4 linked regions of the Homo sapiens genome follow. The protein of the gene in region 4 purifies or fractionates together with the protein of the main gene of each other region. This does not show direct contact. Each region holds a gene or a part of one and is shown on either strand. Other genes may lie near its edges. The genes, in order: ATRN, TMEM106B, CNTNAP3 and BTNL8.

The links.
Region 1: the proteins of BTNL8 (region 4) and ATRN purify together in Homo sapiens (affinity purification with mass spectrometry; 3 studies listed by BioGRID and IntAct, with this or other methods). This does not show direct contact.
Region 2: the proteins of BTNL8 (region 4) and TMEM106B purify together in Homo sapiens (affinity purification with mass spectrometry; 3 studies listed by BioGRID and IntAct, with this or other methods). This does not show direct contact.
Region 3: the proteins of BTNL8 (region 4) and CNTNAP3 purify together in Homo sapiens (affinity purification with mass spectrometry; 3 studies listed by BioGRID and IntAct, with this or other methods). This does not show direct contact.

The regions. Positions count from the first base shown.
Region 1 is NC_000020.11:3,465,683-3,474,335, forward strand, and holds the start of ATRN (attractin isoform 1 preproprotein), read left to right. Parts: upstream 1-5,335; 5' UTR 5,336-5,390; coding exon of another isoform or gene 5,391-5,425; coding exon 5,426-5,835; intron 5,836-8,653. UniProt on the Homo sapiens protein: Involved in the initial immune cell clustering during inflammatory response and may regulate chemotactic activity of chemokines. May play a role in melanocortin signaling pathways that regulate energy homeostasis and hair color.
Region 2 is NC_000007.14:12,234,923-12,242,887, forward strand, and holds part of TMEM106B (transmembrane protein 106B), read left to right. Parts: 3' UTR 1-7,965. UniProt on the Homo sapiens protein: In neurons, involved in the transport of late endosomes/lysosomes. May be involved in dendrite morphogenesis and maintenance by regulating lysosomal trafficking.
Region 3 is NC_000009.12:39,095,395-39,103,359, forward strand, and holds part of CNTNAP3 (contactin-associated protein-like 3 isoform 1 precursor), read right to left. Parts: intron 7,322-7,965; coding exon 7,103-7,321; intron 4,757-7,102; coding exon 4,517-4,756; intron 1-4,516.
Region 4 is NC_000005.10:180,901,414-180,909,378, forward strand, and holds part of BTNL8 (butyrophilin-like protein 8 isoform 2 precursor), read left to right. Parts: intron 1-932; exon of another isoform or gene 933-961; coding exon of another isoform or gene 962-983; intron 984-1,008; exon of another isoform or gene 1,009-1,084; intron 1,085-7,172; coding exon 7,173-7,520; intron 7,521-7,965.

The sequences.
Region 1 (8,653 bases), on a different chromosome or scaffold from region 4:
CAGCACCTTGGCCAACACTGCTGAAGGAAGCTGGTACCCAGGTGGGAACAAGAACCAGACTAGTAGGACTTCTGCACTGTCAACTTTTAAATTTCTGTGGTTTTATGCCACCAAGTTTGTGGAAATTTATTATAGCAGTCACAGGAAACTAATATGTCATCTGTAATTAGGAGAAATTATAAGGGATTTTAATCCAAAAGGATGGCTTCAGTTTGGGAACTTCTAATTTGAAGTACTTCATGGCCATATTTAGCAAAGTCATTTGTCTTTTAACAGTAGTACTGTTTTCATAGTATCTTATCTATACACAAGAGAAAATTTTTGTTCTCTGTTGTAGAAATTTGGGGGAGGGGGCATGAATCTAGCTCATCCAATAGAAATTTCAAGTCTTCTGCCTTTAAATTGATGTGCTCATCCCAGTGCAGCGTCTTGTCCCTTGAGCTGACATAAAGGTGAACTCCTGTACTTGTGGGACTTGTCTGAGGAGGCCACCAGGAGCTCTGCCAACAGCTCAGAGGTATAACTTTATGCTCCCAGATCAGGGACTCCTAAACACTTTCTCTTACAGTCTGCCAAGGACTATTGGAATCTTATTGCTGGTTGGTTGACAGTGGGATATCCATTGGAGCTTTCAATGGCACTTTATTCCTACCTAGAACCCTCTCAGTTGTGTTTGTTCCAAACCTTCAGGATCAACCTCTTTCACAGGCAACGTAGTACCTTACCTTCTAGGTGAGATTTTAACACCTATAATTAGAGAATTGCTTGGTCACACATTGACTAAAAGTATAAGGATAACTTTGGGACAATAAAATGTATCGATGTTTCAAACAGTGCAGAATGAGGACCGGTGATGTTTGCGGGAAAGTCAGATGGTCAATCAGATCTTACTTGAGCAGTATTCAATCTTTGCTTTCTAGTAGGTATTTGATAAACAAACATTTGTTATATGTATTACACATACATGGAGCTATCTATTTGTATCTATTGGTACCCCTCCCAAATTTCCTTTATAGGATCCTTCTTACTGCTGTGAATGTTGTCTGCTGAAAGAGATGTGTGTACAAAATGCTGCTCCCTTACCTCAAAGTGGAATCAATTCTATGGTACAATTCATGCTCTAGGGCTCTCCATAGGATCAGGCTGAAGCTCAACTCTAGATAAGACCAGACCACATCTTTTCTCAACCCCCTCCTGGGCTCTATCTTGCTTCCTTCACTGTGTTTCTTCCGAGAGCAATCTTCCAATGAATTATGCACTCAGATCCTGTTTCAGGGTTCTGCTTCTAGGGAATCTGACCAAAGACACTGCATGAGTAAAAGCCAAAAATTATAAAATCCATCTATGTCCATGACTTGGAGACAATGCAAGCAAAGAAACAGGAAGAGATGACATGAAATCAGAGAAAGGGCCAAGGTGAGTAAGATGCCTTACTTAAGTGAAAAAGAATAGGCATAGGCACCTTCAAACCATCCTGCACTAACCTAGTGGAGACAAACCCTTTTGGTCATGCAGTTGGCAAGAACAATGTTATTTTAGTGTCTGGACTTAGAGTAATTTGTATCAAAGCCTGGGTATTCTTTGCCACTGGCATTACAGTTTCTGGGACCTGGAAATGACCACCATGACAAAGACCAGTGGAAAAAAAGGGATTTCAGGCAGAACTGCTGCAGAATCTTGCTGATAAGGCACTGGGGTACAACAGAGGCACTTCTGAAGCTACGGTGACTACGGTGACCTCCTTCATGAGAAGCAACTGGACAATGATACTAGTGTATTACATATAGATGACTAGTTGTAGATTATACATTTATATACAATTATACTGTCGTTCTTAATTCTTAATCAAGTCCACATCACAAGACTTATTCTTGTCCTTGGAGGAACCAGGGTACAGAGTATTCTGGTAATTTATTATTGTGTAACGAACTGTCCCCAGTTGGCTCATTTATTTGCTTATGTATCTGCAGTTTGGGGCGGGTTCAGCAGGAACAACACCCCCCTGCTTCATGATTGGGGCCCCAACTGGGAAGACTTGAATGGCTGGGGGCTGGCTTCCTCACAGCATGGTGGTCTCAGGGTAGCTGGACATCTTTTATGGCAAGTGTTCCAAGACACTTCAGGAGGAAGCTGCAAGACTTCTTATGACCTAGCATAAAGTCCCATTTCTGGGACCTCAGAAATCCCAGTACATCACTTCCACCATAGTCTATCAGTCAAGCAAATCACTAAGGCCAGGCTAGATTCAGAGTGGGGTGGGGGTGGGGGTGGGGGTGGGGCCGGGGCCAAGGGTTAGACCTGATCTCTCCATAGAAGGAATGTAAGAGAATTTGCAGCCATCTTTAATCTATCACACAGACATAGAATGTGTAGGGGACTTTTTGATAAACGCAGTAAAGGAAAAAGAAGATAGCAGGTAAGATTTTGTTTCTTTGTTTATTTGTTTTTAGAGACAGGGTCTTGATCTGTTGCCCAGGCTGGAGTGCAGTGGTCCAAACATAGCTTACTGCAGCCTCAAACTCCTGGGCTCTGTGATCCCCCTGCCCCAGCCTCCCAAGTAGCTGGGACTACACATGCACGCCACCACATCTGACTAATTTTTTAAAAAATTTTTTGTAGAGACAAGGTCTCACTATGTTGTCCAGGCTGGTCTCAAACTCCTGGCCTCAGGTGATCCTCCCACCTTGGCCTCCCAAAGCACTGGGATTACAGGCATGAGCCACTGCACCCAGCGTGTTTGTTTTTTAAGGACAAAATAATTTGAGCATGTTTGAAAGCTAAGGAAAAAGAACCAGAGAAGAGAGTAGATTAAGGAAGTAAGAAAGAATGTTTGCTGCAGCAAGATTCTAAGGCTTCAGAGTAGCAATATCTAGTCTAGGGATTGCTGTTCTTCAGATGCACACCTTTTCTGTTATCCCTGAATGTTGGTAAAATCATGTGAAACTTCACAGTGTGGGTTCAGTCTTGCTGTGGGGAGGGAAGGGAAGGAAAGGGCTGGTTCACTTCTGGCCTGGAAGATTAGGGGGAGCAATGTCTCCTACAGCTAGGGCATGGCCTATGCCAGCCTCCCCATCTGATGGGGTCCTGCCAGAGGGTAGGGCCATGTCTTCAATTTCAAAATCCTACATGGCAAAAACATAACCTGCAAACCAGAATGTCAGTGCTAGGGCCTAGGCCGAACAATAGTTTTCCTGTAGGAATGGGGAGTATGTGTGGATGTAGAGCTGGGGGTAAGGCTTTTGTGCAATTCAGCTTCACCAGGCTTGAAGAAGATGCAGTGAGGACAGTCAGGACCTGAGTATGAGAGTGGGACCTGGGTATGAGTGTGGAAATCCATCTTAGAACCTTAAAATTCCATACTCTGAGGTAAAGCTGAGAGGCTCCACAGGTCTATGAGGGTTTTTCTTTGTTTCCCAGGGACTGTAAGGTGCCCAGATTCTGAGGTAGGTGCCATAGGAATATTCCTCATAGCACAAGCATTATGTCGGACAATGTTCTGCTTATCTATTACTGAGTAACAAACCTCTCTAAAACTTAGAGGCTTAAAATAACATAAATCATAATTTATGAAAAATTATAAATAATTCATCACTTAAGGGTTAAATGATAAATGAGTTATTTCTTAGGATTTTGGATAAGTCACAGTTAGGAAAGACCTGTTACTGTTGTAGGTAACATGGAACAGCCCAGACGGTTGGAATAACCCAACCCAGATAGCTTCTTCACTCAATGACTGATCCCTTAGCTAGGATGGCTCCACCAGCTGAGCGGCCCAGCTCTCCCTCTCCAAGTCCAAGTGGTCTCTGCACATGGTTTCTCTCCAGCAAGGTGGCTAACGGGGTGCAGCTCATGACCACCAACAGCTCAAAATCAAGGCTGCCAGGTCTTTTTTTTTTTTTGAGACAGAGTCTCGCTCTGTCCCCCAGGCTGGAGTGCAGTGGCGCGATCACGACTCTCTGCAACCTCTGCCTCCTGGATTCAAGCGACTCTCCTGAGTAGCTGGGATTACAGGTGTGTGCCACCACGCCCGGCTAATTTTTGTATTTTTTGTAGAGACAGGGTTTCACCACGTCGATCAGGGTGGTCTCGAACTTCTGACCTCGTGATCTGCCCGCCTCGGCCTCCCAAGGTGCTGGGATTACAGACGTGAGCCACCGTGCCCGGCCAAGGCTGCCAGGTCTTTTTTAAGCTCAGAGCTAGAAACAAGACATTGCTACTCCTACCAACTTCTTCTATTGGTGAAATTGAGTCATGGTTTCTCATGGTCTCAATCATGACCCAGCCCAGATTCCAGGGTCAAGGACCATAAAAGGCTACATTGATGGAAGACATGTCTCATTGAGGGACACCAGAGTAACAACTACCAGACAAGAAGGGGCAGGTCTGTGTGAGCGCCATTTCCTAATTCTATATTGCCCACTCTTCAGAGAAGATGGTTGGAGGGCAAATTGTGGGGAGCAAGGTAACTCCAAACTTTTACAGAATTAAAGGTAGGGGGTCTGGTCAGCTACAGTCCATCTGTTATCAAGAGGCCTGGCTGTGTGTCTTCATTCAGTTTATTAGGCATTTACTGAGCACAGCCTACATGCCAGGTTCTTCATTTTTTGACACAGGGTCTTGTGTTGCCCAGGCTGGAGTGCAGTGCTGCGACTGCGGCTCACTGCAGCCTTGACCTCTCCAGACTCAAGCGATCCTCCTGCCTCAGCCTCTGGAGTAGCTGGGGATACAGGCGCGCACCACCATGCTCGGCTAATTTTTGTATTTTTAGTAGAGACAGTGTCTCACCCTGTTGGCCAGGCTGGTCTCGGATCCCAGAGATCAAGTGATCCGCCTGCCTCAGTTTCCCAAAGTGCTGGGATTACAGGCGTAAGCCTCCGCGCCCGGCCTATGCCAGGTTCTACATGTGTTCTTTCTTGACTCTTGTGTTACAGAGGCTCGAATGAAGCCTGGCTTCTACAGTACCGCACCCAGCACCTCGCTGCGATGCAGCCTCCTGTACCCTTTCCGTCCGGCAGCTGGAGTTAGGGCAGAGTGCCGGGTCTCTAGGAGGGCAACACTCAACGCAGTCGGCTCCTAGGCATCCAGTGGGGCTGCAACCCCGCCGCCGGGGACGAAAGGCGAAGGGGGAAAACTAGAGCTTTCGCCGGCCGGGACAGCGCAGCCGGGTTTCAGCTCGTTCTACGGTCCACGTCAGAAGATCGCCTCCGGCGCCGCGGACGCCGGAGACCACTGTCTGCGCCCCCGCACGCACGCACCCACGTACTCGCGCACGCGCGCGCCGGCCCCGCCCACCGCCCCGCTGTGGCCCCTTTGGACCGCACGAGCCACCGTCCGCACAGCCCCGCCCCGCACGGCCAGGCGAAGCGGAGCCGGCCGTGCGGTGTGTGTGTATGTGTTCGCGGGGCGCCGTCTCAGCCCCGGGAAGATGGTGGCTGCAGCGGCGGCAACTGAGGCAAGGCTGAGGAGGAGGACGGCGGCGACGGCAGCGCTCGCGGGCAGGAGCGGCGGGCCGCACTGGGACTGGGACGTGACCAGGGCTGGGAGGCCGGGGCTGGGGGCCGGGCTGCGCCTCCCGCGGCTGCTGTCTCCACCGCTGCGGCCACGGCTGCTGCTGCTGCTGTTGTTGCTCTCGCCGCCGCTGCTGCTGCTGCTGCTGCCCTGTGAGGCCGAGGCCGCGGCGGCGGCGGCGGCGGTGTCGGGCTCAGCCGCAGCCGAGGCCAAGGAATGTGACCGGCCCTGTGTCAACGGCGGTCGCTGCAACCCTGGCACCGGCCAGTGCGTCTGCCCCGCCGGCTGGGTGGGCGAGCAATGCCAGCACTGCGGGGGCCGCTTCAGGTGAGTGGCGGGTGGTGTCGGAGGGTCGGGTCCAACCAGAGGCTGGGGCTGAGGGGCGTTCGAGACGGCTCCAGGTCAGAGGGAGATGCTGGACAGAAAGTGGAGAGGGTAGGGCCGCCCTATGGGGTTTGAGGGCCATTTGCTTCCGGGGAGATCATCGTCTCTGGCCTGGGGTCTTTCTCTGTTGGAAGGTGAAAAGGTGTGGGGCAAGGGTGGGGGCACCCCGACGGTATTTGGGTGCTTAGGTTAGTTAGATGGGAAGAATGCTGAGGGACCCAAAGAGCATCAAAGCCGATCGCTCTAAAACTCGGCGTGTTTCAGCTAAACGAGGTATCCAAGGAAAGGTGGTCGAGCCAGGTTTGCTTGAACACTTCCTTTTAACATCCACATGTGCCCTAGGACCCGATGAGTTCCCCGATGCACTGGAGATGTGGGGTGCTCTGAAGAAACAGGGCCCTGGAAATGCTTTGTTGGCTGGAGATAAAAGGGAAAGGGTAGCATTGTAAGATATTAGGGATAGAAGGACCAGTGGTCCTTCTAAAGGAAAGTGAGGAAACTAGCCTTTTGGCAAAAGCTCCCTGGAGGTGGCAAATTGGAATAGGGTCTGTGGTGAAGAGGGAATGGAAGGAGATTCCTATTTGCCTTGGTTTCTGGACAATATGAAGTTCTGAATTGGCTTAGTTTGGGGCAGTTCCTCTTGGAGAAATCAATAAATTAATTAGCAGTTATCGTTATTTGCTTCAGTTGTGCAATGATTTTCCAGATAATACAGACAGATTAGCCAGACTTTGGCCTTGTCCACAGGGAGTTTGGAATATAGCAAGAGAAAGATAATGTGCGCACATAACCCTAGTCATAAGGGTTACAGAGTCATTCACGCCTTTGACAGGTATTTAGCTTACTGAACACATGTCTGATGTGGGGGAGTGGGGAAATGTGAACAAGACAGACAGGGCCTCTGCTCTCATTGACCTTAACATTCTAGTGGGAGCAACAGGCACTTAACAAGTAAATAAATGAGAGAAATAAACATGGTAATTTCAGGTAATGGTAAATGCTATCAAGAAAATAAAAACAGCGTGGTCTGATAGAGAATTATAACCGGTGGTGACTCTTGGAGAGGGTTCTCATTTGAAATGACATTTGATCTGAGACCTGAATGAGGCAACAGGGAACTTGTGGGAATTCAGGGATGGAGAGGTTGTGGCTAGCTGGAGGGATGCAAGGAGGACTTTGAGGAGGCGGTAACATTGGATTTGAGCATGTAAGGTTAAGTAGGATTTGGAAATGTGGAGCTGGAAAAAAATTACAGATGGAAAGAAGGGTGCAAACAAAGTTGTGGAGGCTGGAAAGTAAAGTTTTGCTGCTGCCTATGTGGAAGAGAGTTGTGAGAGAGGAGTTTGGAATAGCAAAATTGTAGACTTAGGTAATATTAGGTCTTCTGAGGAACTCAGAGAACGTTGAGCAGATGAGCTCTTTAGTTTTATGGATGGAGAAACCAAGTTACTTCAGGACCACTGATGCAGTGAAGCTGCTTTTGTAACTTAGGGTGTTCTGATTTATGAATTCCATTAACCTACATGTATTTGTTGAGGGCTCCTATGTTTTAGGTTGTGAGATACAGTGGTATACAAGACAGGCACAGTCCTGCTCTTACGGAGCTCACATTTCAGCTTGGGAGTAAAAAAATCCAACAAAAATTTTATTGTAATTTTGTTTAAGGCTGTGGAGGTAAAGAGCAGGAGACAAACAGAGGACTTGACTTAGTCTAGGGGTAAGGTAAGTCACTGAGGAAGCGATGTGAAGTCTGAGGGGTGAGATGGTACTACCTGCGTGAGGGGTGGGGTGCTGAGGGGCCAGCAGGTACAGAGGCTTGGGGTTGAAGCGGATGGAAGGCCAGGTGGCAGGAGCAGAGAGAGCAAAGGGGAGCTTGGCAAGACTGGAGAGAAAGGCGGGAAGCCAGGCCAAGTGGAGATCTGTGGGTTGGATTGAGAATTTTGACCTTTAGCCCAAGAGCTGTGAAATGGCGTAGTTCACGCCTATTTTCATGACATTATAGGCTTTTAGATTGGAGCCAGAATACAAATGGCCTTGAAGGTGAGGCCAGGGCATTTTCCATTTGAGAAGCTTCCAAGGTCAGGTGAATGGATGGTTGAGTCAGACGAGGATCCTTCAAGTTCTGAAAACCTGGGACACTGTGGTAGGCAGTGGGGACCAGCGGTGTGGGAAGGGGACTTCATAGCAAGATCAATCTGTAATGTTCAGAGTAGGTACACTCACTTTGGGCATGAGAGATAGGGGGCAGCTAGGTGGGATCTGTTGGCATGGGTCAGAGCAGTGGTAATGAGAGCTTGTAGAGGTGAAATGGACAAGTCTTCCGTGTAAACTGGTTTGCTCTTGGAAAGGTGGGGGATGGTGAGGGAAAGAAAACTAGATCCTGTCTTGGGTGGTTGAGAGGACAGTGATACCATTAACAGACACAGGGACACAGGAGCAGGTGTTAGACATTTAATTGCATGCATGCTGAGTTTGGGGTGCTCTCAGAGTACACACCTGGCAGATGTTAAGTTTGGAGTCATCGACCTATGAGGGAGATTGCCAGGGAGCTCTCTCTGAGAGTCCACATGGAAAGCCCAGAGGATTGGATAAGAGCTACTTGTTGCAGGGAACAGGCAGTCCTGACACTGGTTGTCTCAAATAGTGTCACAGGTGAGTGAAGGGACTCCCCTGCTTATTGTGGACATTCCCTTTGAGCTGATTCTAGGTGATGTCAGTGCTGTTTCCTGGGTAGACAATTATGACTTTGGTCCTGATGATA
Region 2 (7,965 bases), on a different chromosome or scaffold from region 4:
TCACGTACTTACTAAGTAGTACAACTGGAGCAAGATCAAGTATCTCTGTCTCCCATATCTGTGTTCTATCATTTAAAATATATATTGGAAATCCCTGCTGACTCAGATTGGTATGATTAAAAATGAGAGGAAAGTTCAAATAGTTAGTAGTGACAAACTAATACTGCTGGACTAAGATTTTGGTAGCATTGTTTTCTAAAATATTTTAAATGGAGAATGAACACTTATAAAATGCTTTGGAACATAATCTTTAGCTTAATTTTCTGTTAAAATTTAGTACCCCTTCATCATTCCAATAAAGATAAGACTGATCCATTGTCTAAGGAAATTATTTATAAATAATAGAGATTAATTTATTTGAGATTTGAAATAAGAATAGTATGAAAATATTAGATACCACATAAATTGTTTGAAATTACTGAATAACCATCTTAAGTATGGAACATTTAAATGGCTATATTTTATTTGTGTACAGTTTTTCTGTGCCTTGTTAGGCCAGTGAAGCAATTATTTTCTCTAAGAAAATGACAATAAAATATAACACACTTCAGATTGTCTGATTTACAGTTTGGAAAGGACACCGCAATGTTCAAATAGGTAGGAGACCATCAAAAACACAATTAAAGTAACATATTAGGAGACTTGAAACTTCAGCCTAATAAATCCTTCATGGTTCTTAGCCTTATTATTGTGATATAATTCTAGATATTTTCTTGGAGGGCATGTGCCCAACTCTCCCGCACCCCATTTTGTTTGTCTTTTAAAGTTCTTAGAATAAACAGTTCTTTATATAATAATTATATTTTATTTAAGAAAATAGTTTGTTAGGTACTTTTTAAAAGATGTAAATTTTTAAATTTACAAATACATATGGGTCTTTGATAAGCAATAGGAATTGAATTACAAGTTACTAGGGTTATAAGCAAAAGGTTGCTTACCATAATGTCATTAGGTCACGATTTTTAGCTCACATCTGGAAGCAGCAACTACTTGGCTCAAGTACATATAAGAGTAATTAGTTTTATTCTCTCTTTTTTATAAAATCGGGTTTCAGATGAGATGTTTATCTTAGACTATTTTAGGGAAAAATTTTACATGTTTGAGATGGTGGAGTAAAAAGACTGTTAAACATTTCTTTTAAAAAATTATTTTTACATTACAACAATATATTTATGATGTGTTCAGATCAAAAATTTAACTTCTGTGTCCCAGATCTACTTTCAAAGTGAGATTTTCACTTGTCAGCTTAAATTTCTGACTAGAACTAACATTTGTGTATTTTTGTGCTTAGTCGGAATACAAATTTCACAGTGGATTTTTGAAGTTTGTCCTTAAATTGGATAAAATCAAGTGATTAAAGTTACTAAAGAGATAAAAATGGTAATTTCCATTTTTAAAAGTAATTTGGTTGTGTTTATAGTTATTTGTACAAGTATTTATCACAGACTCTAAATTGAAAAATGTAGTATGATCTATATTTGACCCTAAAAATGTTGGATTAATTTAACAAATATGGCAGATTTTTCATAACTAAGTCTTAAGTCTTCTAAAAGGAAGCTGTTACCCTTCTGTTTTTAATTACATTAATTGAAATGTGTTTTAAGAGATACAATTTCAGCATATTTTATATATTAAAAAACAAAAAAGGATTAGTATTGAGCCAGTGGCCAAAAGGTAATATTACTACCATGTAGACTGTTATAGTTCAAATTGTCCCACTTCACCCAGAATTTTAGAAACTAGAAGTCTGGGAGGTACTATATCAGCTGTAGTTGGGTAATTCCAAGTGCTGATAGTACTATTCATCTTTTTTATTATTGTGTCAGATGAAACAAATGCCAAGTTGCAAAATATGCAGATTTTTATTATATAATGGTTTTAGGCATAAATTATTAACAAGCCATGCCTTATGTGTTTCATCTTATATTTTTCTTTAGAACTAAACTATAACAGATTTTGGAAAATGATTTGACGTGCTTGCTCACTTGATTGACTTGGTCAGATATTTGAATGATGGTATTACCTAGATTCTAATCCTTGATTCTAGTTATATAATAAATAATATAGAATATGAAAATATGTTTGGGCATTTACTGTTTATATTATGTAGTAGCCTCCATCATGACACACTTACTACATTTATGAATTGAGCAGTTCTGTAATTGTAATTATTATTGCTGTTCATGTAACAAAACATGCTTATAATAGCAAACAAATAGAAATGCCCCCAAAATGCTATTTTTTTAATTCAGTTATAACTGTTACTCTTGTAGTTGTGTATGACGCAATAAAATTTGTAAAAAAATTTCAGCATGAAAAATAAAATTTGTATCACTTATGTATTTTGGCTATGCTTTTGAAATTTCCTTAACATAAACAAATCAGTGTAGATATTCAAAATCTTTTACCTTTAATCCTTTTCATCCTTATAGTCCTTACCTGAACTCTACTTTAGCATTATCTTTGATTTCTTTTTTTCATTCACTTAACTTCCAATCAGTACTCAAGCTTTATCCATTCTACCTCTGTAATGTCTCTGGAATTTATCTCATACGTGAAATTTCCCTTGATATTATAGACATACCTTGGATATATTGCAGGTTTGGTTCCACACCATATCGATAAAGTGATATAATCAAGCAAGTTACACACCTTTTTTTGGTTTCCCAGTGCATATGAAAGTTATGTTTACATCATACTGTAGTCTATTAAGTGTGCAATAGCATTATGTCGAAAAACACAATATATATGCCTTAATAAAAAATAGGCTGTGTGCAGTGGCTCACACCTGTAATCCCAGCACTTTCGGAGGCCAAGGTGGGAGGATCACCTGAGCCCAGAAGTTCAAGACCAAATTGGTCAACATGGCGAGACCCCATATAAAATATATACATACACACACACACACACACACACACACACACACACACACACTATTGCTAAAAAATGTTAACGATCATCTGAATGTTCAGAAGTTTATACTCCTTTTGCCGGCACAGGATCTTGTCTGGATGTTGTTTGCTGATAGATCCATGTAGTGGTTACTAAAGTTGGGGTGGCTATGGCAATTTCTTAAGACAACAATGAAGTTTATCACATCTATTGCCTTGTCCTTTCATGAAAGATGTCTCTAGCATGTGATGCTGTTTTGATAGCATTTTACCAATGGTAGGTCTTTTTTCAAAATTGGAGCCAGTCCTCTCAAACCCTGCCTCTGCTTTATCGACCATGTTTAAATAATTTTCTAAATTCTTTATTGTCATTTCAGCAGTGGTCTCAGCATCTTCACCAGGAGTAGATTCCAACTCAAGAAACCACTTTCTTAGCTCATTCATAAGAAACAATTCCTCATCTGTTCAAGTTTTGGCATCAAGTTGTAGCAATTCAGTCACATCTACAGACTCCATTGCTAAATTTTAGTTCTCTTGCTATTTCCACATCTGCTGTGACTTCCTTCACTGAAGTCATGAACCCCTCAAAATTATCCATGAGAGTTGAAATCAATTTCTTTCAAACTCCTGTTAATGTTCATATTTAGACCTCTTCCCCTGAATCACAAATGTTGTTAATGGCATCTAGAATGGCAAATCCTTTCTGGAAGGTTTCAATTTACTTTGCCCAGATCCATCAGAGGAATCACTACCTATGACAGCTATGGTCTTACAAAATGTATTTCTTATATAGTAAGATTCAAAAGTCAAATTTACTCCCTGATCCATGGCTGCAGAATGCACGTTGTGTTAAGAGGCATGAAAACAACATTAATCTATTTGTACATCATCAGAGCTGTTGGGTGACCAGGTACATTGTCAATGAGTAGTAATACTTTGAAAGGAATTTTTTTTTCCAAGCAGGTCTCAACAATGGGCTTAAAATATTCAGTGAACCGTGTTGTAAACAGATGTCATATTATCCAGACTGTTCCATTTATTGAACACAGGCAGAGTAGGTAAAAGTTTTAAGGGTCCTAGGATTTTCAGGATGGCAAATGAGCATTGGCTTCAACTTAAAGTCACCAGCTACATTCACCACTAAAGAGAGTCAGCCTGTCCTTTAAAGCTTTAAAGGCAAGCATTGACTTCTCTTTAGCTATGAAAGTTTTAGATGGCACCTTTTTGTAAAAGAAGGTTGTTTTATCTACATTGAAAATATATTGTTCATTGTAACCACTTTCATCAATGATCTTAGCTAGATATTCTGGGTAACTTACTGCAGGTTCTCCATCAGCACTTACTGCTTCACCTTGCACTTTTATATTATGGAAACAACTTATCTCCTTAAACATCATTAACCAACCTCTTGGTAGCTTCCAACTTTTCTTCAATAGCTTCCTCATCTCTCTCAGCCTTCATAGAATTGAAGCGTGTTAGGGCTTTGTTCAGGATTAGGCTTTCACTTAAGGCAATGTTGTGGCTGGTTTGATCTATTGAAACCACTAAAACATTCCCATATCGGCAATAAGGCTGTTTGATTTTCTTATCATTCATGTTTTCTGGAACACTTTTCAATTACTTACAGTAAGGAAATAGCACTTTTAATTTCCTTCAAGAACTTTTCCTTTGCCTTCACAACTTGTGCAAGAGACCTAGCTTTCAGCCTATCTTGACTTTCCAAGATTGTCCTTGGTGAGAAATGCTTGATTACTAGGTGTAATTATTTCTAGCTTTTGATTGAAAGTGAGAGATATGTGACTCTTCCTTTTACTTGAACAGTTAGAGGCTATTGTAGGATTATTAATTGGCCTAATTTCAATGTTATTTTGTCTCAAGGAGAGAGGGATGTGGGAACAGCTGGTTAGGAGAGCAGTCCGAACACACACTTTTTTTTATTACTTTCACTGCCTTACATGGGTATGGTTCATGCTGCCTCCAAATACTTACAAAAACATCAAAGATCACTGATTACAGATCATTAAAATAGGTTTAATAATAATGGAAACATTTGAAATATTGCAAAAATTACCAAAATGCGACAGAGACATGAAATGAGAACATGCTGTTGAAAAAAATGGCACTCATAGACTTGTTGGACACAGGATTGAAAGAAACCAATTCATCAAAACCACAATATCTGCAAAACGCAATAAGGTGATGCACAATAAAAGGAAGTATATCTGCACTTCCTTCTTTTTTACTGAAAAAGCCCAAGTTCTTACTCTGGTGTTGAGAACCTTTCATTAGCTGGCTACAATCTCAGTTCACAATCATTTCTTATTGCCCTTCAACAATGTCCTGACCAAATCGAGTTCTTTCTCATTGGGAACAGTTCATTCCTTTATCCCTTCGCTCATTCTGTTCCTTTTTTCTTAGAAAAATTATTTGCCCATGTTTTTTATCCCCCAATTCTATCTTTTTCAATGCCCACTTCGTGTCCAACCCCTCTCTACTTTCCCTCTAAACTTACTCAAACACTTGGTGAACTTTTTCTGAATGTTTTTTCTGAATGTTTACTTTTAAAGGAGTTGCCCAGTCACAAAGTTTGAGCCAAGTTTTTTTGTTTTAAACTTGTTTTAAACTTTTGTTTTCATCAACTTTTTTCAAACAATTTTTGTCAGCTTAGAGGTTGTGTTTTAATTACTATTTTTAAAATCTTGTATGAGGTAGTATGATTTGAAATTAGATGGAATGTGCCCAAAATTATCTCTGTAGAATAATATGGAAAAACGAAAATGAAAAGATGTATTACCTGAATGTGCTCCTCCTAGCCAGTTTCTCAAGGGAGAAGAATCATTAATAAGTTTGTGAGGCTTTTTTTTTTTTTCTGGTAGATTTCTGTTTCCTTGATCAGTGGTTTTTCAGAATTTTTTAAAGCTTGTGAAATACTTATTTGTAAATAGCATCTTATGAGGAACCTTGATATGTGACAAAACAGATGCTTTGATTTGAGAGCAGAAGACCTGCAGCCCCTGACTGCTCACCTTTCCAGGGACCCCTGAACATTGGCCTAGAGGGTAGTGTACAGTCACTTCTTCAGTGATAACTTACTGAGTGTGATTCAACAAAACTGCTTTGGTTTATGGGTGAAACATAATTTATAACTAGGCAAATGTCAGCTTAAATTTATATTTTCTAAATAGCACTGAAAATGACAATAGACAAATGTAATTTCTGATTTTTAAGAAATGATTTTCCATTTTAACATACATTTTAAATGTTTTGTCTTCAAAGGGAATCCTTAAAAATGATATATTGGAAACCACTGATTTCTTATTTTCATTTCATGAATTTCAGATTCATGAATGGAATATATTGATAATAGCATTTTTTAAGTTGCCCCAAAAAGATGAAATACAAATAATTTTAATCCCAAATCTATTTCAGACACCTAACTTTTTTTTTATTTTTTATACTTTAAGTTCTAGGATACATGTGCAGAACGTGCAGGTTTGTTACATAGGTATACACGTGCCATGTTGGTTTGCTGCACCCATCAACCCGTCATCTACATTAGATATTTCTACTAATGCTATCCCTCCCCTAGCCCCCTACCCCACAAAAGGCCCCAGTGTGTGATGTTCCCCTCCCTGTGTCCATCTGTTCTCATTGTTCAACTCCCACTTATGAGTGGCAACATGTGCTGTTTGGTTTTCTGTTCCTGTGTGTGTTTGCTGAGAATGATGGTTTCCAGCTTCATCCATATCCCTGAAAAGGACATGAACTCATCCTTTTTTATGGCTGCATAGTATTCCATGGTGTATATATGCCACATTTTCTTTATCCAGTCTATCATTGATGGACATTTGGGTTGGTTCCAAGTCTTTACTATTGTGAACAGTGCTGCAATAAACATATGTGTGTATGTGTCTTTACAGTAAAATGATTTATAATCTTTTGGGTATACACCCAGTAATGGGATTGCTGGGTCAAATGGTATTTCTGGTTCTAGATCCTTGAGGAATCACCACACTGTCTTCCACAATGGTTGCAATTTACACTCCCACCAACAGTGTGTAAAAGCTTCCTATTTCTCTACATTCTCTCCAGCATCTGTTGTTTCCTGACTTAATGATTGCCATTCTAACTGGCGTGAGATGGTTTCTCACTGTGGTTTTGATTTGCATTTCTGTAATGACCCGTGATGATGAGCTTTTTTTCATGTTTGTTGGCTGCATAAATGTCTTCTTTTGAGAAGTGTAAGGTACTTAATTCTTAAATTAAAAAAAAATACCCGGCCGGGCACGGTGGCTCACGCCTGTAATCCCAGCACTTTGGGAGGCCGAGGCGGGTGGATCATGAGGTCAAGAGATCGAGACCATCCTGGCTAACAAGGTGAAACCCCGTCTCTACTAAAAATACAAAAAATTAGCCGGGCGCGGTGGCGGGCGCCTGTAGTCCCAGCTACTCGGGAGGCTGAGGCAGGAGAATGGCGTGAACCCGGGAAGCGGGGCTTGCAGCGAGCCGAGATTGCGCCACTGCAGTCCGCAGTCCGGCCTGGGCGACAGAGCGAGACTCCGTCTCAAAAAAAAAAAAAAAAAAAAAAAAAAAATACCCTTCTTTAACAAAATCAAGTTTCAAGTTTTCTGCCTTGTTGATAACTTGTTAACATTTTTTTATTTTAGAATAAATCTAAACAGAGACCACACTGATATCTGTAACAACCTATGTAAAGTTAAGATTAAGGTTAAATCACATTTTTCACAGAGAGTGTTTTACTGAAATATAAACTTTTATGCATCTGATATTATCTAATTGTGTCCTTACTGGGTAACTTGTGTATTTTTCAAGTTAAAGGATTTCCTAAAAATGCTTATTTGAATATTTATGTCATTTGTCACACATACTTTCAAAACATAACCTTCTTCAACGAGTATCTTCTTTTCCTTCCTAAAATACTGTTAATAGCTGGCTATTTTGTAAGCCTGTATCTGGTTTAAAAAAAAGAAGTGAATATTTTCAATACTTATGAACCATAGAATTCTGTATTCTTTTCATAACTTTTAACTTTTCCATAGGACCTATCACTATG
Region 3 (7,965 bases), on a different chromosome or scaffold from region 4:
CGTGTTTCTTATTTTACGGAAGCTTTCACCATTGAGTATGATGTTAATTGCAGGTTTTTCATATATGGCCTTTATCATATTGAGAAAGTTCCCTTCTATTCCTAGTTTATTGAGTGTTTTTGTTTTTCAATCATGAAAGGTTACTGGAGTTTGTTAAATGTTTTTTTTTCAGCAACAATTAAGATAATCATGTTTTTTTTCCCCTCTCATTCTATTAATCTTGTGTAATATGTTGACTGATTTTCATTTGTTGAACCACTCCTGAAATCCTGGGATAAATCCTACTACGTTTTGGTATATAGGTCTTTTAATATATTTCACGACAATGTTTTATTTTCTTTAGTGATTGCTCTAAGCTTGCATTATATATATCTTATCAATAATCTGCTTCAGGTTTACATTAACTTAATACAAGTGAGATTTAGAAAAGTTATTTCTACATAGCTCTATTTCTTCTGTTTTGGAACTATTTTTATGCATACCAAACCCATTATTATTTTATATAATTTGTTCTCTTTTTAAAAAATCTGAGAAAAAAAAAGATCAAGTAAATATTTATAGACTTTGTCTATAAACTCTCTTATTTACCATTTCTAGTTCTCTTTCTTTGTTCCTCTGACTCATGTTACCATTTGGTGTCATTCCTTATTTCAGTACAGCCTTGCTCCCATCTGTCTCCTCTGTGCTGTTTTTTTGTAATATATTTCTATAGGCCCAACAATGAAAATATATACATTATATATTTGTATATTCTCTATTATAGTTTTATACATTGCTTTTTAAAATAGTTAAGCACTGAAAAGGGTAAGAAATATGACATTATACTTTCTTTTATAATTACCTGCACACTTACCTTTATTAGTGCTATTTGTTTTTTGTGTGTAGATTCAGATTATTGTCTGGGTTATATCCCTTCAACCTGAAGGAACGTTCTTTGTTATTTCCTCTAATGCAGGCTAATAGCAGTGAATTCTCTGTTTTTTGTAAGTAGGGATATATTTACTATCTTTTTTAATTTTTAGTTTTTATGAATACCTAATAGTTGTACGTTATTTATGGGGTAGAGGTAATATTTTGATACAACCAAACAATGTGTAATGATCAAATCAGGGTAACTGAGATATCCATCACCTTAAACATTTATCATTTCTTTTTGTTAGGAACATTCCAGTTCCACTCTTCTAGTTATTTTGAAATATACAATAAATTATTGTTAACTATAGTCATCCTGTGCTACTGAACATGAAAGACGGTTTTGCTGGGTGTAAGTTTCTTCATGACAATAGTTTTCTTTCATCTCTTTGAATATGTTATCTCACTGTCCTGTGGCCTCCATTCTTTCAGATTAGAAGGTAGCTGTTGATCCTGGCGTTTCCTTGTATATATGATTTTTCTCTTACTGCTTTTAAAATTTCCTTCTTGACTTTGGCTTTCAAAGTTTTTAATAAGATGTGTCTGGATATAAACTTCTTTGTGTCATCTGTATTTCACTGAGTTTCTGTATCTTAGATTAATGATTTTTATTAATTTGGGGGTGTTTTCAACCATTATTTTTCAAATATTTTTTTCTGATCCTTTCTCTCTCTCCTGGTATTTTCAATTACGTATATATTGGTGTGCTTAGTTATGTCTGATATTTCTCTGATGATCTATTTTTTTCATTATTATTTCTCTGTATTCTTCAGGATACATAATCTCTATTGATCTTGCTTCAAGTTTGCTGACTCTTTTTTCTTTTCTCTGTTAAACTTCCCTGGCTTAACTCATTACTCTCTTGGAGTTATCAAAATTCTCTTAATTGCTTACTGCCAATATCTTCATACCACTATGCTTAAACTTATCCATCCTCTGTTCCAAATAGAAATCAGTTCACTTGGGGAGGGCTACCAAGCTGTGTATTTTCATGGCCTCCCTCTACCTCTTGGTTGAATGTGCCTCACTGCTCTGAAGCTGTGGGGAGTGAGAGTGGCCTGCTCCTTTGTAGTAAAACCTCTGCTTACAAGTAGGGCACAGGGTGGGAAAGGTAACTTCTTGCCTTGCCTCTCCTGGTGGAGAAACTGTTCCTTACAAGTAAGCTGGAGTGAGGGCAATTGGGACACAGGATTTTCCAGCTGCCACACCTGAAGACCTTATGTCCTGGAATGAGGAGTTGGTGTAGGAAGGAAACCCCAGACTTCTCAGCTGTTTCTGCGTGGACAGAGCTTCTGTCCTACAAAACTGGGGATGACAAGAAATGCTGGCACCCAATCTTGGGGTAATGCAGTATCTCTGGAGTAGGACCTGGGTAGAGAGGAAACCTCTGGCTTCTTGGCTATATCCATATAGAGTGGAGCTTCCGTCATACTGAGCTAGGGATGGGGAGGTGCTGGGAGAGGGTCTTGGCTTAAATGCCTCAAACTCTCACTATTATTACTGATTAATAAATGTTTCTTCATTTGATGTATTTCCTTAGGACATCTTCTAAAGACTTTCAATAGTTGTTTTTTAAAATAATAATTTTTACTAGTTATGCTTGTTTCGTATGAGAGAGGGTTTACAGAGCTCCTTATGTGGCCAGCCTGGAAATGCCAGAGTACCAGGTTTTTTATTTGAATGTTACCTCCTCTTTAAAAATCGATTTGCTTTGTAGGAAGCATGAAACAGAGCTCCTGAAGTAACTAGAGAAAAGGTGATTTGAAGACCAACCCTCCTTCAAGGTCAGAATTTAGAAATGTTCTTTTATGCCAAAGATGTTTCTCAAATTTACTGTCTGGATAGAAAGGCTAATCCAAAGTGGTATCTACAGTATTCTGAGAGAGAAAAGTTGAAGGGCTTTCAGATTCTCTTAAAACACTTTATGAAAGGTTGATATTTTAATTTTATATCAAGTTAATTCCAAAAATGTGTTTAGTACACACATACACATACACACACCCCCCAAATATATCTGTAAATAAAAAGACAATGTTGGGTGATGATCATTGTCTTGGAATACTACTCCACTCTTTCCATTTCCATAAAATATAAAGAATTTACTGAAAATCCAGATCATTCTTATTAGATTAGGTAATCTAACTATAACATATGCCCCAGCCACTGGAGGACCATTTTCCATTTACTTACTATATAATGTCTATCCTTAAGAAAATTTTGGGTTATAAAATAACATTCAAATTGCACTTAGCAAATGTGGATTGGGAATGATTTAGAAATCAGCACTTGTGCTCATGAAGGAGTGGTTACTCCTGATGTTGGCTTGAGATATAAAAAGGGCTCTGTATTTGCACCAGAGCTATGAGATTTGTTAGCACAGAGATCTTCAGGAATGATAAAAGACACATGCAAGACCTTTTGAAAATTTAAATGACTTCTAGATAATGAATCCTCAAAATTTTTTTGAAAGTCACACAATTTTATAGTGATTAAAGCCTGTTTTGCTGCTAAAAATAGTAAGTGTAACAGCCCAGAGACACTTAAAAACACAACTACATTTTAGCTCTGATGATTCAATATTGTAAGAGGTTTCATAAAAGTATTATAAATATATTAAATAAGTCAGTACAGAGTACTTAATACTAAAATCAGTCCCTTTTTCCTTTTCTTTTTTTTTTTTTTCCCCAAGACGGAGTCTCACTCTGCCGCCCAGGAGTGAGTGCAGTGGTGCGATCTCTACTCACTGCAACCTCTGCCTCCCGGGTTCAAGCAATTCTCCTGCCTCAGCCTCCCGAGTAGCTGGGATGCCCGGCTAATTTTTGTATTTTTAGTAAAGATGAGGTTTCACCATGTTGGCCAGGCTGGTCTTGAATTCCTGACCTCGTGATCCGCCTGCCTTGGCCTCCCAAAGTGCTGGGATTACAGGCATGAGCCACCACGCCCAGCCCTTTTCTTTTGAAAACATGATTGTACCTGAGCAGAAGCTGTGTGATACCCCACTGCACTCCTCTAAGAAGAGTCAAACATCATAGAGCACAGTGTTTGAGTGATCCTGTTAATGACTGTCAATATTTAAATATTATTTTCCCCTTCTAGTTAGTATGCTTGTTTTATAAGAAAAGACATTTCTATAAAGGCCTTTTGAATCACTTCAAGTCATTGTCACAAGGGACAATGGGTAAGACGATTGCTCAAGCCTAGGAGTTCAAGTCCAGCCTGGGCAACAGAGAGGCTTGAATAGCAATACGTTGTCTCTAAAAATTAAAAACAAAAATAACAATGATGGTTTACTGATGTTAAAATTAGAACAGTACAAGGACAGAGTTTTGAAAACCAAATTATTTCAAGAGGATTAGCATTGAACAGATGCTAGGGGTAACCCAGAGATCTTCTAAATAAGAAACCCAGAGAGGACTGATAGCCTTAAGTTTTCAAAAACAGTCATATCCCTTCTAAATTCAATAGAGGAATTTGGTACAGAAATTATTCCATTTCAAATAATTCAATCTTATCCTCTCTTTATAATATCAAATGCCAGAAGCATTCTTCATGTTATTTAAGTTTCATGTACTTTCCCTATAACCTGCTCCTTGGTCACACTTACCATTGGAGCAGAACGGCCCATCATAGGCTGAGAAGGCACAGTCACAGGTGACCCCCCTGCGTTTCTCTCTGCATCTCCCTCCATTGCGACACAAGTGTCCATAGGTGCTGCAGTGTCCTGCACACCCTGGCTCCACTCCTGGCGTCACTGTGGCTCTTTCTTCCAGATCCAGGGCCACCCCGTTCAACTGCAGAGACCGAATGCATCCTAGAAAGCCTCTCTGTCTGGTGGCCGTTCCACCTACAACGGAAACACTGCAAATAGAAATGTGTTCCTTGGTATTTTATTCAGGATTTTATGTCCATGTCAAACTCAGGCCTTATGGAGAGTGGCAATAATCACAATGTGTCAAAAAATTTTGTGAACATACACAATTTTGAAAATGTAACTGTTATGAGACATGAAGCTTTAAATGACATTGAATAAAACACTTATTTACATAACTTTCAAACATGGTGAGTCTGGCAAATAGTCCTAAAACATTTCCTTAACTTCAGGTAAGAAAGAATTTCACTTTAGTTCCTTCACAAAGAACAAAATACATAATATAAACCACATCAAACACTATTCTACTTTGTTTAGGAATAAGAATGTGTATTCATCAAACATTATTTTAATTTCTTTATGAATAAGAATGTGCATTATAATGGTTAGGTATGAACTTCCAAATTTTTCACAATAATAAAAATATATATGGATAATTTCTTACTTGGATGGACTCTAAAAATAAAGTGTGAAAGGAAATGGAGAGGCAAAGGAGGGGAAGTTGGAAGGGGTGACACCGTACCCCAGGATCTCCTCCTCTCAGAGGGTACAGTGCTAAACAGTAATTGAATACTGCATGCATGCACATTTTGTCATGTCAAACTTGAATGCTGAAGAAACCATTTAGAGAGGTTTACAACACCTGTGTAGTGACAAACACCATTATGAAGGCGACAATTCTCAATGTTAGGAGCATGGAAATTACCTAGAGTTTCTGGAAAATGCAGTTTTTAGCCTCCTCCCAGAGATTCCAATTCGGTGGGCCTAAGGTGGGGGCCCCAAATCTGAACTATCAATCAGCTTTGTGGGTGATTCTGAAGCCAGTGATTCATCCACCGCAATGAATGCTGATTCTAGGTGAATTTTACGCTAATTGTGTTTCTAGGCATTCCCTTAAATAATCTCCAAGATTACAAGTGAGAAAATCAAGTTCTTGGTTTGACCCCTCCGTGTAGTCCTCCTTTCCAGTAGTTTGATGGTTTCATGTCCTTTGAAAAAGCCTCACTGCACCTTAATAGAAGAGCTAACCACGCCTGAAGCTAGGTTTTAGGAAGTCATGGTATAACACCCCATCCACATCCACATACATACGTGGGTTCACGTGTAGCATTTAGTACCTGGAAGTTGTATCTACCCTTCCCTGTAAATTAGGTTGGATGATAATTTGTGATTTAGTCCAGTTTTAATTAGATTGCATCCTTATTCACTTTAAAACACTTAAGAAATGAACAAGTGAGAGCTTTAATCTGTGTAGCTCCTAAGTTAGAATAGTTTCAAAAGCAATATGGAAAAATAAACAACAGTGATAAAACAGTAAGTAAGCAAACTAAAGGAAAGACTTCCAGAGCTATCACCTTTAAATAAATGGAGTGCAAGAACAGATGAGCCAGACCAGGTTATAAACAAGGAGCCTGTGATGAGAGAGCCCCAGAAGTGAGAACAGCAGCGAGGAAAACCGGGAGTGGGCTCCTGGAAGCCTGGCCGCGGGGGAGGTGCGCAGTGCTGCTTCCAATCAGCGGGTATCCTGCGATCTGGTTTTGAGTGGACCCTGGAGGACTTCTGTCCCAATTACAAGCTCTCTAACTCCACCGAGAAGTGAAACTGAAGGAATGGATAAAAATGTCTAATGATCTCACTAATAGTGTTGATAAAATATAGCTGTCACATATGCCAATCCTCTGCAATGTGAATGGTTCAAGTTTGGGGGTCGGCTATCCTGGGATCCCTCTCATTAGCTGGTTACTCCACTTCTCTGAGGCTTGGCTATCTCATCTGTAAACAGATGACAATACCTAAACATTGATACCTAAACACTGAGATACTGCAGGGCCCGGTGGCTCGCGCCTGTAATCCCAGCACTTTGAGAGGCTGAGGTGGGTGGATCATCAGGTCAAGAGATCACGACCATCCTGGCCAACATGGTAAAACCGTGTCTCTATGAAAAATACAAAAATTAGCCAGGCGTGGTGGCACCTGCGCCTGTAATCCCAGCTACTCAGGAGGCTGAGGCAGGAGAATCGCTTGAACCCGGCAGGTGGAGGTTTCAGTGGGCTGAGATTGCACCACTGCACTCCAGCCTGGGCGACACAGTGAGACTCTGTCTGAAAACAAAAACAAAAACAAAAACAAACAAACAAAAAAAGAAATGTCAAATAAGAAGCACACAGCAAGCTCCTGGAACCTACCAGGTTATCAGCAAATAGTACCAATAAGCAGTAGTTGTTGTTGGCAACTGTTGCTCTCAGTACATCACAGTTCTTATTTTCTTTTGGTCCCTCTCTGGACTCACACTAAATTCAGTTATAAACCACCAGCACTCACCAATGAAGAGCTGGCTGTTGAGCTGTAAACGAACGTGCCCATCAGCAGGGGCAGGCTGCATCTTCTGAGGAAGCTGATCAACTTGAAGAGACGCTCCTTTAACATTTCTCTCTGCCCTCACGTGGTGCCACTGATTGTCATTAAAGGGAGTGGGTGACTGCACCGTGACCTCACAAGGTCCATTCCCCACATCGAAGGAAAAGGTCACTTCTGTGGGAGCTAGAAATATTAGATATGAATATTGCTCAAGCAAATTCACAGAAAATTGAGTCTTGTGCAGACACAGGAAAACATGAAGGCACGCTCAGGATGGAAGGAGATAATGACGGCGATGCAGAAAAACGGGACTGTGAGTTGGGGTGGGGGCAGAATAAATCTGTATCCTGGAGGAAAACAGAACGGATTTTAACATATTTATCCTCAGAGTTCACAATTCAACCTTGTTAAGTCCTAAATAGTAGAGATATGTACCCATAGCTGGACTACCCATAGCTATGTACCTATAGCTAGAATACCAAATAGTATTTGTTTTTGAGGTTTCAGTAATTTTATTTACAAACGGCTCAAAGTCTCATCTAATTCTATAAACACTGAATGTAAATTTTGACAGTCATAAATTAAGCTTTGGGTACATAAAAAACAATATGTCTGGTCAAATATTTTTGGAATTCAGTAAACAATGTGATGAGTTTGGTTTAAAGCTCTGGCTCTGCTGTTCTGTACTCTAGGGAAGGCATGACATTTTAATGGATTATTACGTGCTTCATGCTTCATTGTTTTATTTTCTCTTAAAAATGATTACTGGCTGGGTGTGGCAGTTCACACCTGTAATCCCAGCACTTTGGGAACCCGAGGCAGGCAGA
Region 4 (7,965 bases):
GTCTCTAAGAAGCAGTGTAATCCTTACAGGGTAGTAAGAGTGATTTACACCAGGAAAATTACTCAAATGATTGTTAAACAGATGAGCAAGTAAGAAAGGAAATGGGGCTCACCGTTCACATGCATAACTGTGGAGCCTGTTCTGTGTGACTGGCTCTGTGCTGATCAAGTGGGTACTATGCTGAGCAAGAAAATCAGGCCCTGTCCCCAGAGAGCCAAGAGCTGTGCAGGGGAGGCTCACAGAAAACATGTAATTGTCACACTTGAAGCAAGACAATGAAGAAAGTTTCAAAAGCGAGGTGAGGACATACATGTACCAAGAATTTTTTTTAAAAAAAATGAAGGCAAGACATGTTGACAAAGCACTAGGCGAACCACCTTTCAGTGCTAAAATAAAGTGGAAAAAATTACTACACAAGCGTAAAAGGCACATGCTATGGAAAATATAAGTCACACGTGAACGTGCTAAAGAACAAATTTACAGAAAACAGACTGCAAAATCTTGTTTCAGTGTCACAGCATGTCTTTCAGAACTTGGCAGAACAAGCAGATTTTCAAAAAAAACTAAGGAAGTACAAATAATTGTGTGCGCCATGGGCAGAAATGTAACATTCCTCTATAGTAGCCATAAAATATTGATATAATATTGTGCTTGAAGGAAACCTTAACGAATTGCCGCAAACTGGAGACTTTATGGCCCATACTCTTCTCTGGGCCATTAGAAAGACGTCAACTTTGGTTTTCAGCAAGGACGATGGAAATGGGGATGTTTGGGTTTTTTTTTTAATTGAAGCAAATGGGCAGATGGGAGAGAATGTGGCAATAGAACCTCCTGGAATCAAAGGGTCTACATTCAGAAAGAGACTTTTTCCTCTGGATAACATGGTTTTCTCATCTTAAAAATAAAAACATTAATAATACACATTTCTGCAGGTGCTCCTCAAGATCGAATGAAGTAACTGATGTGGACATGGTTTGTCAAATGTAAGGAGATACACAAATGCAAGTCACTGGCTTTAGAAATAGGATTGTGATGAATGTTTCCCCCTGATGCACATCTCCAGCCCAGCCCAATGGAGCCCTGAGTAGGTCACACTATAAAGGGTTTTTTTTTTTGTTTTTGCTTTTATACTTTAAGTTTTAGGGTACATGTGCACATTGTGCAGGTTAGTTACATATGTATACATGTGCCATGCTGGTGCGCTGCACCCACTAACTCGTCATCTAGCATTAGGTATATCTCCCGATGCTATCCCTCCCCCCTCCCCCTACCCCACAACGTCCCCAGAGTGTGATATTCCCCTTCCTGTGTCCATGTGATCTCATTGTTCAATTCCCACCTATGAGTGAGAATATGCGGTGTTTGGTTTTTTGTTCTTGCGATAGTTTACTGAGAATGATGATTTCTAATTTCATCCATGTCCCTACAAAGGACATGAACTCATCATTTTTTATGGCTGCATAGTATTCCATGGTGTATATGTGTCACATTTTCTTAATCTAGTCTATCATTGTTGGACATTTGGGTTGGTTCCAAGTCTTTGCTATTGTGAATAGTGCCGCAATAAACATACGTGTGCATGTGTCTTTATAGCAGCATGATTTATAGTCCTTTGGGTATATACCCAGTAATGGGATGGCTGGGTCAAATGGTATTTCCAGTTCTAGTTCCCTGAGGAATCGCCACACTGACTTCCACAATGGTTGAACTAGTTTACAGTCCCACCAACAGTGTAAAAGTGTTCCTATTTCTCCAATCCTCTCCAGCACCTGTTGTTTCCTGACTTTTTGATGATTGCCATTCTAACTGGTGTGAGATGGTATCTCATTGTGGTTTTGATTTGCATTTCTCTGATGGCCAGTGATGATGAACATTTTTTCATGTGTTTTTTGGCTGCATAAATGTCTTCTTTTGAGAAGTGTCTGTTCATGTCCTTTGCCCACTTTTTGATGGGGTTGTTTGTTTTTTTCTTGTAAATTTGTTTGAGTTCATTGTAGATTCTGGATATTAGCCCTTTGTCAGATGAGTAGGTTGCGAAAATTTTCTCCCATTTTGTAGGTTGCCTGTTCACTCTGATGGTAGTTTCTTTTGCTGTGCAGAAGCTCTTTAGTTTAATTAGATCCCATTTGTCAATTTTGTCTTCTGTTGCCATTGCTTTTGGTGTTTTAGACATGAAGTCCTTGCCCATGCCTATGTCCTGAATGGTAATGCCTAGGTTTTCTTCTAGGGTTTTTATGGTTTTAGGTCTAACGTTTAAGTCTTTAATCCATCTTGAATTGATTTTTGTATAAGGTGTAAGGAAGGGATCCAGTTTCAGCTTTCTACATATGGCTAGCCAGTTTTCCCAGCACCATTTATTAAATAGGGAATCCTTTCCCCATTGCTTGTTTTTGTCAGGTTTGTCAAAGATCAGATAGTTGTAGATATGCAGCGTTATTTCTGAGGGCTCTGTTCTGTTCCATTGATCTATATCTCTGTTTTGGTACCAGTACCATGCTGTTTTGGTTACTGTAGCCTTGTAGTATAGTTTGAAGTCAGGTAGTGTGATGCCTCCAGCTTTGTTCTTTTGGCTTAGGATTGACTTGGTGATGCAGGCTCTTTTTTGGTTCCATATGAACTTTAAAGTAGTTTTTTCCAATTCTGTGAAGAAAGTCATTGGTAGCTTGATGGGGATGGCATTGAATCTGTAAATTACCTTGGGCGGTATGGCCATTTTCACGATATTGATTCTTCCTACCCATGAGCATGGAATGTTCTTCCATTTGTTTGTATCCTCTTTTATTTCCTTGAGCAGTGGTTTGTAGTTCTCCTTGAAGAGGTCCTTCACATCCCTTGTAAGTTGTATTCCTAGGTATTTTATTCTCTTTGAAGCAATTGTGAATGGGAGTTCACTCATGATTTGGCTCTCTGTTTGTCTGTTGTTGGTGTATAAGAACGCTTGTGATTTTTGTACATTGATTTTGTATCCTGAGACTTTGCTGAAGTTGCTTATCAGCTTAAGGAGATTTTGGGCTGAGACAGTGGGGTTTTCTAGATATACAATCATGTCGTCTGCAAACAGGGACAATTTGACTTCCTCTTTTCCTAATTGAATACCCTTTATTTCCTTCTCCTGCCTAATTGCCCTGGCCAGAACTTCCAGCACTATGTTGAATAGGAGTGGTGAGAGAGGGCATCCCTGTCTTGTGCCAGTTTTCAAAGGGAATGCTTCCAGTTTTTGCCCATTCAGTATGATATTGGCTGTGGGTTTGTCATAGATAGCTCTTATTATTTTGAAATACGTCCCATCAATACCTAATTTATTGAGAGTTTTTAGCATGAAGGGTTGTTGAATTTTGTCAAAGGCTTTTTCTGCATCTATTGAGATAATCATGTGGTTTTTGTCTTTGGCTCCGTTTATATGCTGGATTACATTTATTGATTTGCGTATATTGAACCAGCCTTGCATCCCAGGGATGAAGCCCACTTGACCATGGTGGATAAGCTTTTTGATGTGCTGCTGGATTCAGTTTGCCAGTATTTTATTGAGGATTTTTGCATCAATGTTCATCAAGGATATTGGTCTAAAATTCTCTTTTTTTGTTGTGTCTCTGCCTGGCTTTGGTATCAGAATGATGCTAGCCTCATAAAATGAGTTAGGGAGGATTCCCTCTTTTTCTATTGAATGGAATGGTTTCAGAAGGAATGGTACCAGTTCCTCCTTGTACCTCTGGTAGAATTCGGCTGTGAATCCATCTGGTCCTGGACTCTTTTTGGTTGGTAAGCTATTGATTATTGCCACAATTTCAGCTCCTGTTATTGGTCGATTCAGAGATTCAACTTCTTCCTGGTTTAGTCTTGGGAGAGTGTATGTGTCGAGGAATTTATCCATTTCTTCTAGATTTTCTAGTTTATTTGCATAGAGGTGTTTGTAGTATTCCCTGATGGTAGTTTGTATTTCTGTGGGATCGGTGGTGATATCCCCTTTATCATTTTTTATTGCATCTATTTGATTCTTCTCTCTTTTTTTCTTTATTAGTCTTGCTAGCGGTCTATCAATTTTGTTGATCCTTTCAAAAAACCAGCTCCTGGATTCATTAATTTTTTGAAGGGTTTTTTGTGTCTCTATTTCCTTCAGTTCTGCTCTGATTTTAGTTATTTCTTGCCTTCTGCTAGCTTTTGAATGTGTTTGCTCTTGCTTTTCTAGTTCTTTTAATTGTGATGTTAGGGTGTCAATTTTGGATCTTTCCTGCTTTCTCTTGTGGGCATTTAGTGCTATAAATTTCCCTCTACACACTGCTTTGAATGTGTCCCAGAGATTCTGGTATGTTGTGTCTTTGTTCTCGTTGGTTTCAAAGAACATCTTTATTTCTGCCTTCATTTCGTTATGTACCCAGTAGTCATTCAGGAGCAGGTTGTTCAGTTTCCATGTAGTTGAGCGGCTTTGAGATTCTTAATCCTGAGTTCTAGTTTGATTGCACTGTGGTCTGAGAGATAGTTTGTTATAATTTCTGTTCTTTTACATTTGCTGAGGAGAGCTTTACTTCCAGTATGTGGTCAATTTTGTAACAGGTGTGGTGTGGTGCTGAAAAAAATGTATATTCTGTTGATTTGCGGTGGAGAGTTCTGTAGATGTCTATTAGGTCCGCTTGGTGCAGAGCTGAGTTCAATTCCTGGGTATCCTTTTTGACTTTCTGTCTCGTTGATCTATCTAATGTTGACAGTGGGGTGTTAAAGTCTCCCATTATTAATGTGTGGGAGTCTAAGTCTCTTTGTAGGTCACTCAGGACTTGCTTTACGAATCTTGGTGCTCCTGTATTGGGTGCATATATATTTAGGAGAGTTAGCTCTTCTTGTTGAATTGATCCCTTTACCATTATGTAATGGCCTTCTTTGTCTCTTTTGATCTTTGTTGGTTTAAAGTCTGTTTTATCAGAGACTAGGATTGCAACCCCTGCCTTTTTTTGTTTTCCATTGGCTTGGTAGATCTTCCTCCATCCTTTTATTTTGAGCCTATGTGTGCCTCTGCACGTGAGATGGGTTTCCTGAATACAGCACACTGATGGGTCTTGACTCTTTATCCAATTTGCCAGTCTGTGTCTTTTAATTGGAGCATTTAGTCCATTTACATTTAACGTTAATATTGTTATGTGTGAATTTGATCCTGTCATTATGATGTTAGCTGGTTATTTTGCTCGTTAGTTGATGCAGTTTCTTCCTACTCTCGATGGTCTTTACATTTTGGCATGATTTTGCAGTGGCTGGTACCGGTTGTTCCTTTCCATGTTTAGTGCTTCCTTCAGGAGCTCTTGTAAGGCAGGCCTGGTGGTGACAAAATCTCTCAGCATTTGCTTGTCTGTAAAGTATTTTATTTCTCCTTCACTTATGAAGCTTAGTTTGGCTGGATATGAAGTTCTGGGTTGAAAATTCTTTTCTTTAAGAATGTTGAATATTGGCCCCCACTCTCTTCTGGCTTGTAGGGTTTCTGCCGAGAGATCCGCTGTTAGTCTGATGGGCTTCCCTTTGAGGGTAACCCGACCTTTCTCTCTGGCTGCCCTTAACATTTTTTCCTTCATTTCAACTTTGGTGAATCTGACAATTATGTGTCTTGGAGTTGCTCTTCTCGAGGAGTATCTTTGTGGCGTTCTCTGTATTTCCTGAATCTGAACGTTGTCCTGCCTTGCTAGATTGGGGAAGTTCTCCTGGATAATATACTGCAGAGTGTTTTCCAACTTGGTTCCATTCTCCCCATCACTTTCAGGTACACCAATCAGACGTAGATTTGGTCTTTTCACATAGTCCCATATTTCTTGGAGGCTTTGCTCATTTCTTTTTATTCTTTTTTTTCTAGACTTCCCTTCTTGCTTCATTTCATTCATTTCATCTTCCATCGCTGATACCCTTTCTTCCAGTTGATCGCATCGGCTCCTGAGGCTTCTGCATTCTTCACGTAGTTCTTGAGCCTTGGTTTTCAGCTCCATCAGCTCCTTTAAGCACTTCTCTGTATTGGTTATTCTAGTTATACATTCTTCTAATTTTTTTTCAAAGTTTTCAACTTCTTTGCCTTTGGTTTGAATGTCCTCCCGTAGCTCAGAGTAATTTGATCATCTGAAGCCTTCTTCTCTCAGCTCGTCAAAGTCATTCTCCATCCAGCTTTGTTCCGTTGCTGGTGAGGAACTGCGTTCCTTTGGAGGAGGAGAGGCGCTCTGCTTTTTAGAGTTTCCAGTTTTTCTGTTCTGTTTTTTCCCCATCTTTGTGGTTTTGTCTACTTTTGGTCTTTGATGATGGTGATGTACAGATGGGTTTTTGGTGTGGATGTCCTTTCTGTTTGTTTTCCTTCTAACAGAGAGGACCCTCAGCTGCAGGTCTGTTGGAGTACCCTGCCGTGTGAGGTGTCAGTGTGCCCCTGCTGGGGGGTGCCTCCCAGTTAGGCTGCTCGGGGGTCAGGGGTCAGGGACTCACTTGAGGAGGCAGTCTGCCAGTTCTCAGATCTCCAGCTGCGTGCTGGGAGAACCACTGCTCTCTTCAAAGCTGTCAGACAGGGACATTTAAGTCTGCAGAGGTTACTGCTGTCTTTTTGTGTGTCTGTGCCCTGCCCCCAGAGGTGGAGCCTACAGAGGCAGGCAGGCCTCCTTGAGCTGTGGTGGGCTCCACCCAGTTGGAGCTGCTTTGTTTACCTAATCAAGCCTGGGCAATGGCGGGCGCCCCTCCCCCAGCCTCGCTGCTGCCTTGCAGTTTGATCTCAGACTGCTGTGCTAGCAATCAGCGAGACTCTGTGGTCATAGGACCCTCTGAGCCAGGTGTGGGATATAATCTCGTGGTGCGCCGTTTCTTAAGCCCATCGGAAAAGCGCAATATTCGGGTGGGAGTGACCCGATTTTCCAGGTGCGTCCGTCACCCCTTTCTTTGACTCGGAAAGGGAACTCCCTGACCCCTTGCGCTTCCCGAGTGAGGCAATGCCTCGCCCTGCTTCGGCTCGTGCACGGTGCGCGCACCCACTGACCTGCGCCCACTGTCTGGCACTCCCTAGTGAGATGAACCCGGTACCTCAGATGGAAATGCAGAAATCACCCATGTTCTGCGTCGCTCACTCTGGGAGCTGTAGACCGGAGCTGTTCCTATTCGGCCATCTTGGCTCCTCCCCCTCACTACAAAGGGTTTTGATGATTTATCTTTTGTATGTCTTCCCACAGGGCAGTGGCAGGTGTTTGGGCCAGACAAGCCTGTCCAGGCCTTGGTGGGGGAGGACGCAGCATTCTCCTGTTTCCTGTCTCCTAAGACCAATGCAGAGGCCATGGAAGTGCGGTTCTTCAGGGGCCAGTTCTCTAGCGTGGTCCACCTCTACAGGGACGGGAAGGACCAGCCATTTATGCAGATGCCACAGTATCAAGGCAGGACAAAACTGGTGAAGGATTCTATTGCGGAGGGGCGCATCTCTCTGAGGCTGGAAAACATTACTGTGTTGGATGCTGGCCTCTATGGGTGCAGGATTAGTTCCCAGTCTTACTACCAGAAGGCCATCTGGGAGCTACAGGTGTCAGGTCAGTTTCATATTTCATAACTTAGTTGTCCCAAAGAACCATCCTGGACTTTATAAGTGTTTTTTTCAATAAGGAAATTTTAAAATTTTAGGTCATTTAGTTAGAAGGCAGCATTCTATACTCTACGTTCCTTCTGTCTTGTGTGTATAGTTCTATGTGTTTTGTCACATGTTTAAATTCAGGTAACCACCATCACATCAAGGTATAGAACTACCCCATCATCACGAAGATCTCCCTCTGTCACCCCTTCATGGTCACACCCACCCCTTCTCAGCCCCTGCCTGGGGTTTTCCATCTCCCTGATGCTGTAATTTCAAGAATGTTACATACACAGCTTCACACCGCAGGTGACCTTTTGAGATTGACTTTTTAAATTCAGCATAATGCTCTTGCGATCTATCCAAATTATTGCTTGTATCGATACTTTATTTCTTTTTTTTCCCCA